Homo sapiens: one gene and its partners. Changing the gene in region 1 together with any one later gene gives a genetic interaction. Each region holds a gene or a part of one and is shown in the gene's direction. Other genes may lie near its edges.

Evidence for each region.
Region 2: changes in RUVBL1 (region 1) and MED12 together harm fitness less than expected from each alone (positive genetic interaction), as found in Homo sapiens cells (one large-scale study listed by BioGRID).
Region 3: changes in RUVBL1 (region 1) and SETD1A together harm fitness less than expected from each alone (positive genetic interaction), as found in Homo sapiens cells (one large-scale study listed by BioGRID).

What each region holds. Positions count from the first base shown.
Region 1 is NC_000003.12:128,080,300-128,083,202, reverse strand, and holds the end of RUVBL1 (ruvB-like 1), read left to right. Parts: intron 1-628; coding exon 629-720; intron 721-1,793; coding exon 1,794-1,953; 3' UTR 1,954-2,393; downstream 2,394-2,903. UniProt on the Homo sapiens protein: Possesses single-stranded DNA-stimulated ATPase and ATP-dependent DNA helicase (3' to 5') activity; hexamerization is thought to be critical for ATP hydrolysis and adjacent subunits in the ring-like structure contribute to the ATPase activity.
Region 2 is NC_000023.11:71,124,989-71,128,639, forward strand, and holds part of MED12 (mediator of RNA polymerase II transcription subunit 12), read left to right. Parts: coding exon 1-158; intron 159-362; coding exon 363-507; intron 508-674; coding exon 675-725; intron 726-1,047; coding exon 1,048-1,166; intron 1,167-1,352; coding exon 1,353-1,496; intron 1,497-1,980; coding exon 1,981-2,144; intron 2,145-2,347; coding exon 2,348-2,479; intron 2,480-2,904; coding exon 2,905-3,132; intron 3,133-3,307; coding exon 3,308-3,452; intron 3,453-3,609; coding exon 3,610-3,651. UniProt on the Homo sapiens protein: Component of the Mediator complex, a coactivator involved in the regulated transcription of nearly all RNA polymerase II-dependent genes.
Region 3 is NC_000016.10:30,960,603-30,964,253, forward strand, and holds part of SETD1A (histone-lysine N-methyltransferase SETD1A), read left to right. Parts: intron 1-664; coding exon 665-935; intron 936-2,830; coding exon 2,831-2,952; intron 2,953-3,491; coding exon 3,492-3,651. UniProt on the Homo sapiens protein: Histone methyltransferase that catalyzes methyl group transfer from S-adenosyl-L-methionine to the epsilon-amino group of 'Lys-4' of histone H3 (H3K4) via a non-processive mechanism.

The sequences.
Region 1 (2,903 bases):
GTCCACCGTGTTACAGCATCCCCGCCGCCAGCCTGCCTCCCCTCCAACTCTACCAAGATCTTCAAACTGCAACAAGCGTCAGCCTCTTCTTGATAGATTAGATATCTCCCGGTGATGTTATGAGGCCTGGTAAATCTTTAAAAGTAACTGTTTTGATTTATTTAACCATCATATTTATCAAGCAAATAAAAAATGTCCCTTCTTGCCTGAGTGCTTGTAGGCAGTAGTGCCCATGCTGGAGAGGAAGGTTAGAGCCCTTGCAGGAGCCCCGGGTAGGTTAGAAGAGGCCCCAGTTCTCTGCCTGGGGACAGGGGACGGGAGGACATGGAGGCAAGAGTGAGCCACTTGGGAAGCTGCATACCTCCTTGGGCACCAGCCACACTTGAGTCAGTTGAATACAGCACACTGGCCGTGATGCTATTCATGCATACTGCAGGGCCGCACATGCCTCCTGGAGGGTGCCGGGCCGGCAGTGCTGGGCAGGCGTTGGCTCCCTGCCCACCAACCCAGGTCTCAGTTTCTCTTATGCTGCACAGTGAGAAATCTGAGCAACATTGTCTTTAAAGCACTTTAGAAATGGGGCACTTGAGGTCAGTCACCGTTGATCATGTTTTTTATCCTTTAAAAGATCATTAAAATCCGTGCCCAGACGGAAGGAATCAACATCAGTGAGGAGGCACTGAACCACCTGGGGGAGATTGGCACCAAGACCACACTGAGGTGAGCTGGTACCCTGGGCCCGCCGGGGCCTCCCCAGCACAGCCAGGGCCCTCGCTGGGGTCATTCTGGACAATAAAGGCAGGTCCCTTCCTAGGGCATGGGACTCTATCCATCCGCTCTTCCTGGCGCGATGGGTGCCAGGGCACTTGAGTTTCAAATGCAGAGGATCTATCTGATGGTTTTTAACAAGCTAGAGTAAGGGTGAAGTCCCCATGTCCTGCAGCAGATGCTCCCCTCTGGTGGAGAGTGCTTTGACCCTGGGCCTTCTTGTGGCAGAGAAGATGCACAGAACTAGAGAGCAGGGACCATGTGGTAGCTCATTAGCCAGGGCCCTGGCTCCTGTTCTCCCGGTGGTGTTATGAGGCCTGGTAAATCTTTAACTTTTTTGATTTATTTAACCATCAAGCAAATAAAAAATGTCTGGGTGGTGGATATGGAGAGCCAGGGAGGAGCGCAGACATAGACAGTTCTCCTAATTGTTCTCCAGCGGCTCAAACACAGGACCGGCAGAGCATGTCCCTTCACAGTGGCCTGACTCATTGTAAAATCATTGCTTCACAGTCCTCAGCCCTTCCCTACATCCCTTGAGTCAGTTCTTGCTCCTGAGGTTGAAGGCAGAAATGCAAGCTGTGAGGTTTGGATGAAGGGGTACTTTTTAAAACGGCAGAGTCTTCATGCCTTTGGATGGGCATGTACTTCCAGCTGGCTATGTTTTCATTTCCCTGCCATGTTAAATATCCCTATCTGTCGGACACCTGTATACATATAAGTTTGCAGTCCTTTTCCAGTAGCAGTGACATTACTTCCTACTGGAGGATTTGTAGACTGTACTAAAGATTTGGGGAATAGCACTTATGTCTTCTTGGTGGCTCCTGGACCCTCTCTGATGGGATAATGACTGCAGCTCTCTGAGAAGTGACAACTTTGTCTCCCCTTTTCTGTGTTCGTAGCAGCTGGCACAAGCCCAGCACTGGGCTCTGCTCCTGGTGCCAGTGCTGCCTACTGATGTGGGGGGAAGGTGCTTTCTTCGGTGGCCCCAGTTTCACTCCAGCCCTGGCCCCTGTCCACTCTAGGTACTCAGTGCAGCTGCTGACCCCGGCCAACTTGCTTGCTAAAATCAACGGGAAGGACAGCATTGAGAAAGAGCATGTCGAAGAGATCAGTGAACTTTTCTATGATGCCAAGTCCTCCGCCAAAATCCTGGCTGACCAGCAGGATAAGTACATGAAGTGAGATGGCTGAGGTTTTCAGCAGTAAGAGACTCCCCAGGTGTGCCTGGCCTGGGTCCAGCCTGTGGGCGCTTGCCCCTGGGCTTGGGGCTGCCGTCCCCACTCAGGCGTGGTCTGCAGCGCTGTCAGTTCAGTGTGGAAAGCATTTCTTTTTAAGTTATCGTAACTGTTCCTGTGGTTGCTTTGAAAGAACCCTTCCTTACCTGGTGTGTTTTCTATAAATCTTCATAGGTTATTTTGATTCTCTCTCTCTCTCTCTCTAAGTTTTTTAAAAATAAACTTTTCAGAACAGTTTTAGATGTACAGAGTCATTGTGAACATACAATAGGGAGTTCCCATGTATCTTGTACCCAGTTTCCCTTCTTGTTAACGTGTTACATCAGATAGCACATTTGTCACCGTGAATGACCAATACTGATGCATTATTCTACTGCGTTCACATTTTCTCAGTTTTACCTAATGTCCTTTTTCTGTCCCAGGATCCCATCCAGGATAACCCATTACAACTAGTTGTCATGTCTCCTTAGATGCCTCTTGGCTGTGACATCTTCTTAGATTTTCCTTGTTCTTGATGACCCTGACAGTTTTGAGGAGGACTGATCAGGTATCTGTAGAACATCCCTCAGTTGGGGTTTGTCTGATGCTTTTCTCATGAGTAGACTGGGATTGTGGGTTATGGAGAGGAAGACTAGAGGTGAAATGTGGTTCTGATCACATCGTATCATGTGTGGTTCTCATCACATGCTAGCAACATGACTCATCGTTGATGGTGAGCTTGACCCTTTGGCTGAGGTCATGTTTGTCGGGTCTTCTCACTGTAAAGTTACTCTCTGCTGCCTTTCCATACTGAATTCTTTGGAAGGAAGTCACTATATGCAGCCCACACTTAAGTGGCAGGGGTTATGCTCACCTCTAGAGAACTGAGTATTTACCAAAATTATTTGGGATTCTGCA
Region 2 (3,651 bases), on another chromosome or scaffold:
CTATGCCCTGTGAGGGGAAGGGCAGTCCATCCCCTGAGAAGCCAGATGTCGAGAAGGAGGTGAAGCCCCCACCCAAGGAGAAGATTGAAGGGACCCTTGGGGTTCTTTACGACCAGCCACGACACGTGCAGTACGCCACCCATTTTCCCATCCCCCAGGTACTATTCCCCAGCACCTTGTGATGATCTGTTTTGAACCCAGATTGCTGTCAAAGGAATTTGCTGAGGGGTTGGAGCTGTTCTGAGGATGTGGGTTGGGAAAGGGAAGGGCTTTAGCATGTGGATGCTGAGGGGTGTGGAGCATGCTTTCAAGAGGAGGGAAGGAGATCGGTGCTGGAGTCTGATGGTGCTGCTGGGATGCAGGAGGAGTCATGCAGCCATGAGTGCAACCAGCGGTTGGTCGTACTGTTTGGGGTGGGAAAGCAGCGAGATGATGCCCGCCATGCCATCAAGAAAATCACCAAGGATATCTTGAAGGTTCTGAACCGCAAAGGGACAGCAGAAACTGGTGGGTTTGAGGCTCCTTAAACAGATCTCCCCCAAAGAATGCCCTAGTCAGTCTTCCCTTCCCCAGTATAGGGAACTCCCCAGTCATGTCCCAATGTCCTGTCTCTTGGAGTCTCCTGAGAGCTCTAGTCCTTTTGAAACTTCCCCCCTCATTCCCCCCCTCTACAGACCAGCTTGCTCCTATTGTGCCTCTGAATCCTGGAGACCTGACATTCTTAGGTACCTCACAGTAAGCCCCATACTGCCCTCCCTCCCTCTCCCTTCCCTCCCTGAACCTAGCACCTCCCTGTACATATTCCTTTAAGGTCCACATAGTCTGTGGTCCTCTAAACCTTTGCTTCACTGTCCCCTTCCCTTCATTCCTCCCCCATCCCTTCCTTGACCCTCCCTTCCCTGTTTCCCTCTTCCTTCCTTCCCTCCCTCCCTCCTTCCATCTCTCCCTCCCTCCCTCCCATAGCCTTCTCTCCATACCCCACTCCCCACCCCTAGTCAACTAGTTATCTTCCCTGTCTTGACTGGTCCCTTTCAACTGTCCCCTCAGGTGGGGAGGATGGGCAGAAGCGGCGACGCAACCGGCCTGAAGCCTTCCCCACTGCTGAAGATATCTTTGCTAAGTTCCAGCACCTTTCACATTATGACCAACACCAGGTCACGGCTCAGGTGTGGGCCTAAGCCCAGCCCCTTTCCCACATTCTGGCCTCCTGTTCTGTTTTCCTTTTCTTCCCTATCTTCTCCCTGCTAGGCAGGCTAAGCCTCCTGGTCTCATCCCCTTCCAGTGTCATCCTTTCCTCCTTCCCTGGTTCTTTCCTCTCTCCACTCCCATCTCACTCCCACTGCCCTTATCAGGTCTCCCGGAATGTTCTGGAGCAGATCACGAGCTTTGCCCTTGGCATGTCATACCACTTGCCTCTGGTGCAGCATGTGCAGTTCATCTTCGACCTCATGGAATATTCACTCAGCATCAGTGGCCTCATCGACTTTGCCATTCAGGTGGGGAAGTTGGGGAGATGAGGGTGGAGGCAGGAGTTCATGCCATATAGCGGCTACGGAGGGTCATAAGGACAGGCGTAGAGGCTCCAGCCAGTTTCCCAAGCTATTTGAAGGGGCAGAAAGACTAGCATGGGGGGAGTGGAACATGAGCTAAGACTGCAGGAATAGAGACTTAAGTGCTCCCTGGGGAGGCCAAGAGGCAGATTAGAGCATTGGGCACAGACCATCCTCCCACTGTGGAGTTCATAGAACTGTATCCTGGACACTGGTTAGAGGTGTTGTTGATAGAATAAACTATCAACAATAAACTATCAATAGAGGTGTTGTTGATAGACTGTGGCATAGGGTAACGAGCCCTTCTATCCTGTGGTGGCTCCAGCAGGAAGGGGCTCAGGCCCAGCCTTGCCAGCGTCCCCACAGGAAGGTGGTTTCTATGTAACACAAGGGGCCTCTTTGCATTTCTCACCCCCGTTTACTCTGCTAGCTGCTGAATGAACTGAGTGTAGTTGAGGCTGAGCTGCTTCTCAAATCCTCGGATCTGGTGGGCAGCTACACTACTAGCCTGTGCCTGTGCATCGTGGCTGTCCTGCGGCACTATCATGCCTGCCTCATCCTCAACCAGGACCAGATGGCACAGGTCTTTGAGGGGTAAGCAGAGCTTCGGAATAACTGAAACAAAGCTCTGGCGAATGCCGGTGGAAGTGGCCTGGGAAGAGCATGCACTTCCTCACACTCTGGGGAAGCACCTGCTGCTCAGGTGGGAAAAGAATGGTATTTCCCAGAGGCTTGAATCTGTTTGGAGGAGCCCGCATACCATCTGCTGACCCTCCCAACCTTGCTTCTTCATGCAGGCTGTGTGGCGTCGTGAAGCATGGGATGAACCGGTCCGATGGCTCCTCTGCAGAGCGCTGTATCCTTGCTTATCTCTATGATCTGTACACCTCCTGTAGCCATTTAAAGAACAAATTTGGGGAGCTCTTCAGGTAAGAGAGGTGGAAGGTAAGGGGTAGCGAGTGGGACCTACTCCCTTCTTCCCATGACCACCCAACTCAGGAGGAGAGGATGGCCCGGGACCCTGCTGCCTGTCTAGGGTCATTTGTGGACTGTGTCCTCCACATACTGTTGTGTTACCAAGAGTGGGCCCTCTTCCTCAGCAGGCTTGCTCCCCGCCTATATCTGTGGGGCCCACCCTCTTCCCCCTTTTCCTCACTGCCTTCAGAGGCCCCAGTTCCTTATTCCCATGTGGTTCCTTTCCTGCCCAGTCTGTTTTGTCCCATCTCCCTTTTCTTGTCTCAAGATCCTTCATCCCTCACTTTCTCCTTTTTTTCTTTTCTCCCCTTTCCTGACCATCCCTCGACCTCAGCAGGCCTTCTTCAACACTACTATCTCCTTTCCTCCATCCCTGCAGCGACTTTTGCTCAAAGGTGAAGAACACCATCTACTGCAACGTGGAGCCATCGGAATCAAATATGCGCTGGGCACCTGAGTTCATGATCGACACTCTAGAGAACCCTGCAGCTCACACCTTCACCTACACGGGGCTAGGCAAGAGTCTTAGTGAGAACCCTGCTAACCGCTACAGCTTTGTCTGCAATGCCCTTATGCACGTCTGTGTGGGGCACCATGATCCCGATAGGTATGGGGTGTACTGAGTGAGGAAGGGCACCATGCCCCCATCTGAGATAGGGAGGGCTGAGGTACCCGGGAGGTACTACAACCTTGATTATTTAGTGGGGCAGAGATGAGAAGTTAATGGGTCTGAGGTTTTGTGGAGCAAGGTTTTTCCTGAGGGCATTTGTACTTTTCCCTAGGGTGAATGACATCGCAATCCTGTGTGCAGAGCTGACCGGCTATTGCAAGTCACTGAGTGCAGAATGGCTAGGAGTGCTTAAGGCCTTGTGCTGCTCCTCTAACAATGGCACTTGTGGTTTCAACGATCTCCTCTGCAATGTTGATGTGAGACTTGGGGTGGGGTTTTGCTAGTGGGGCAGTGACCAGGGCAGGGGGCTGGTTGTGATCCTCTGACCAGGGACAGAGTTCCGTAGAGTGGAGGCACACCGCTTTGAGTGGGCCTCCACACTGAGTCATGGTGTCTGTCTGTTTTTTCCTCCAGGTCAGTGACCTATCTTTTCATGACTCGCTGGCTACTTTTGTT
Region 3 (3,651 bases), on another chromosome or scaffold:
TCTCTGTATTTCCAGTGCCTCGTTCATGGTAGTTACCTAGTAAAGGCTGAGCTAGGAAATCATCGCCCTGTAGCTCGTTCTCTCCACGTATATTTATTCCTCAGTGTGTACATTTCTTTCTTTCTTTCTTTTTTTTTTTTTTTTTTTTTTTGAGACGGAGTCTCGCTGTGTTGCCCAGGCTGGAGTGCAGTGGTGTGATCTCGGCTTAGTGCAACCTCTGCCTGCCAGGTTCAAGTGATTCTCCTGCCTCACCCTCCTGAGTAGCTGGGATTACAGGTGCCCACCATCACATCCAGCTAAATTTTTTTTTTTGTATTTTTAGTAGAGACAGGGTTTTATCATGTTGGACAGGCTGGTCTTGAACTCCTGACTTCTGGTGATCCGTCCACCTCATCCTCCCAAAGTGTTGGGATTATAAGTGTGAGCTGCCACACCCGGCCTAGTTTGCACATTTCTGTTCTTAATTCTTGCTGTTATTCTGTGGTGAGAAGAATTCAGGGAAAAGGGGTCAGGTCTGATGGATCCCTTATTTTGGGCCCCTTCCCTTGCCCCTCACTTTCCCGGATCTCTCTCTTGACTTCATGGAGCTTGCTAAAGTTTCCCGAAGGACAAAGGAACAGTGGTCAGTGTTGAGACCCCATACCAACTCCTGTTCTTTCCCCAGCTGGACGAGTTCTATATTGGACAGATTCCACTGAAGGAAGTGACTTTTGCAAGGCTGAATGACAACGTGCGGGAGACCTTCCTGAAGGATATGTGCCGTAAGTACGGTGAGGTGGAAGAGGTAGAGATCCTCCTTCACCCCCGTACGCGCAAGCACCTGGGCCTGGCCCGTGTGCTCTTCACCAGCACTCGGGGCGCCAAGGAAACGGTCAAAAACCTCCACCTTACCTCCGTCATGGGCAACATCATCCATGCCCAGCTTGACATCAAAGGTGAGGACTCCTCTGCCTGCCACTCAGGCTTGGCCTCCAGCGGAGGTTGTACATGCAAATGCCTGTCAGGGTCAGGCAGGCGCCCAGGGTCATGATCTGAAACTGCTGGGGCCAGTTGTGTTTCTGAAATCAGATCAGATTTTAGAGTGGAATTATGGTACATGGATTTTTGTGTGTGTGGTGTCTCCAGCAAGGTCGGGCAATAGGCCATAATCAAGCACATAACTATCTGTAAAAAAAAAAAAAAATCATATGAAGGGTTGTACTAGGTAAGATGAATAGATTGTAGTAAATCAGCCCAGGTCAGGTTGGTTGCTTGGTTGGTTTTTGAGACAGGATCCTGCTCTGTCACCTAGGCTGGAGAGCAGTGGCGTGATCTTTCCTCACTGCAGCCTCCAGCTCCTGGGCTCAGCCACCCCAGCCTCCTGAGTAGCTGGGATTATGGGCATGCACCACCACACCTGGCCAAAGTTTTTTTGATTATTTGCAGAGATGAAGTCTCACTACACTGCCCAGCCTGTTTTTAATTTTTTTTTTTTTTTTTTGAGATGGAATCTCAATCTGTCGCCCAGGCTGGAGTGCAGTGGCACGATCTTGGCTCACTGCAACCTCCACCTCCCAGGTTCAAGTGATTCTTCTGCCTCAGCCTCTTGAGTAGCTAGGATTACATTTATGCGCCACTACGCCCGGCTAATTTTTGTATTTTTAGTAGAGATAGGGTTTCACCCTGTTAGCCAGGCTGGTCTTGAACTCCTGACCTCAAGTGATCTGCCTGCCTCGGCCTCCCAAAGTACTGGTATTACAGGCATGAGCCACCATGCCTGGCCTCTTTTTAATCTTTCTATATGCTATTCTATAACCCATATAGGTTTTGGTGCCAGATTCTCAGAAATACTGGATTTTCTGGGTTTTTAGGTTTGGAAATTTGAGATAGAGAGTAAAGGAGCTGTGAACACAAGCGAGGTGGTCTGGGCTTCTGTGTTGAGTGATGGGGAGCAGTGGGGTCTGTGGCGAGCTGCAGATTGCAGTATTGTCTGGAGGAGGCAGCCATTAGTAGGCACTGGCCAGTTTGCAAGTGGAAATGAGGTTTAACATTCTTGAATTTGGTTTGTAAAAGAAAGCCAGGGCCGGGCATGCGGTGGCTCACGCCTGTAATCCCAAGACTCTGAGAGGCCAAGGTGGGCAGATCACCTGAGGACAGGAGCTCGAGACCAGCCTGGTCAACATGGTGAAACCCCATTTCTATTAAAAATAACAAAAATCCGGACGTGGTGGTTCATGCTTATAATCCCAGCTACTCGAGAGGCTGAGGCATGAGAATCACTTGAACCTGGGAGGTGGAGATTACATCGTGCCACTGCACTCAAGCCAGAAATTTGGGTTTTTGTGTGAAATCTCATGGTTTTTAAATACCATGTTTCTTTCCTCACAAGGTGTTTCTGAGGTGTTCACTCCACAGCTCCTGCAGGCTCCGTTAGTCCCCCGGTTGCTGTTCTGCATGCTTTAGTTTACAGGATAAAGAGCATGGGGTGATCGAGCCTCTGGGTTTGAATTCCAATTTTTCCAATGACCAATTCTGTGACTTTGTGTAGGTCGCTTTTAAGCCTCTAGAACAGAGGTACTGATGCTTCCCTTCTGGTGATCCAACATGGTAAAATAAGTAGAAGTGTTTTTGATAAATCGTGAAGTGTCATAAAATATGTTGTTTGTGGTAGTTTAGAGGTAGAGATAAGGTAGAAGGTCCCAAAGGTAGAGTTATGGTAGGAGAACTGAAATCCTGAAACCCAGATTCCAAGAAATTGTAGGAAACTTGAGGCCTGAGAAAGCAGGAATACCAGATCAGGAAGGAGTTAGTATCTCCATCTGACAATTGGTTCCCATTTCCCTCCCTCCAGGACAACAACGAATGAAATACTATGAACTAATTGTCAATGGCTCCTACACCCCTCAGACTGTGCCCACTGGGGGCAAGGCCCTGAGTGAGAAGTTCCAAGGCTCGGGTGCAGCCACTGAGACGGTGAGAAGTTTGTGGCTACCACAGCCCCTAGCCATGTGGGCATGGTGTCCGGGTGCCCGGAGCAGGAGCAGTCTTCGGGAGGTTCCGGGCTTTCCCGTTAAACAAAGAAGAGCCAAGCAAAGCTGCTGAGATGCTTTCAAAAGACAGGGAACTAGGGGCCAGGCACAGTGGCTCACGCCTGTAATCCCAGCACTTTGGGAGGCCGAGGCGGGTGGATCATGAGGTCAGGTGATTGAAACCATCCTGACTAACACGGTGAAACCCCATCTCTACTAAAACTGCAAAAAATTAGCCAGGCATGGTGGTGGGCGCCTGTAGTCCTAGCTACTTGGGAGGCTGAGGCAGGAGAATGGCATGAACCCGGGAGGCGGAGCTTGCAGTGAGCCGAGATCACGCCACTGGACTCCAGCCTGGGCAATAGAGCGAGACTCCGTCTCAAAAAAAAAAAAAGGGAACTAGGATTCCTGGTTTGGGAAAGGGCAGGTCTCAAGTGGTGTTTGAGCCCATTCCTCTCTCCTTGCCCTGCTCTGTCGCTCTAGGCCGAATCCCGCCGCCGCTCTTCCTCTGACACAGCTGCCTACCCAGCAGGCACCACTGCGGTGGGCACTCCTGGCAACGGCACCCCCTGCTCCCAGGACACAAGCTTCTCCAGCAGCCGACAAGATACCCCATCTTCCTTTGGCCAGTTCACACCTCAGT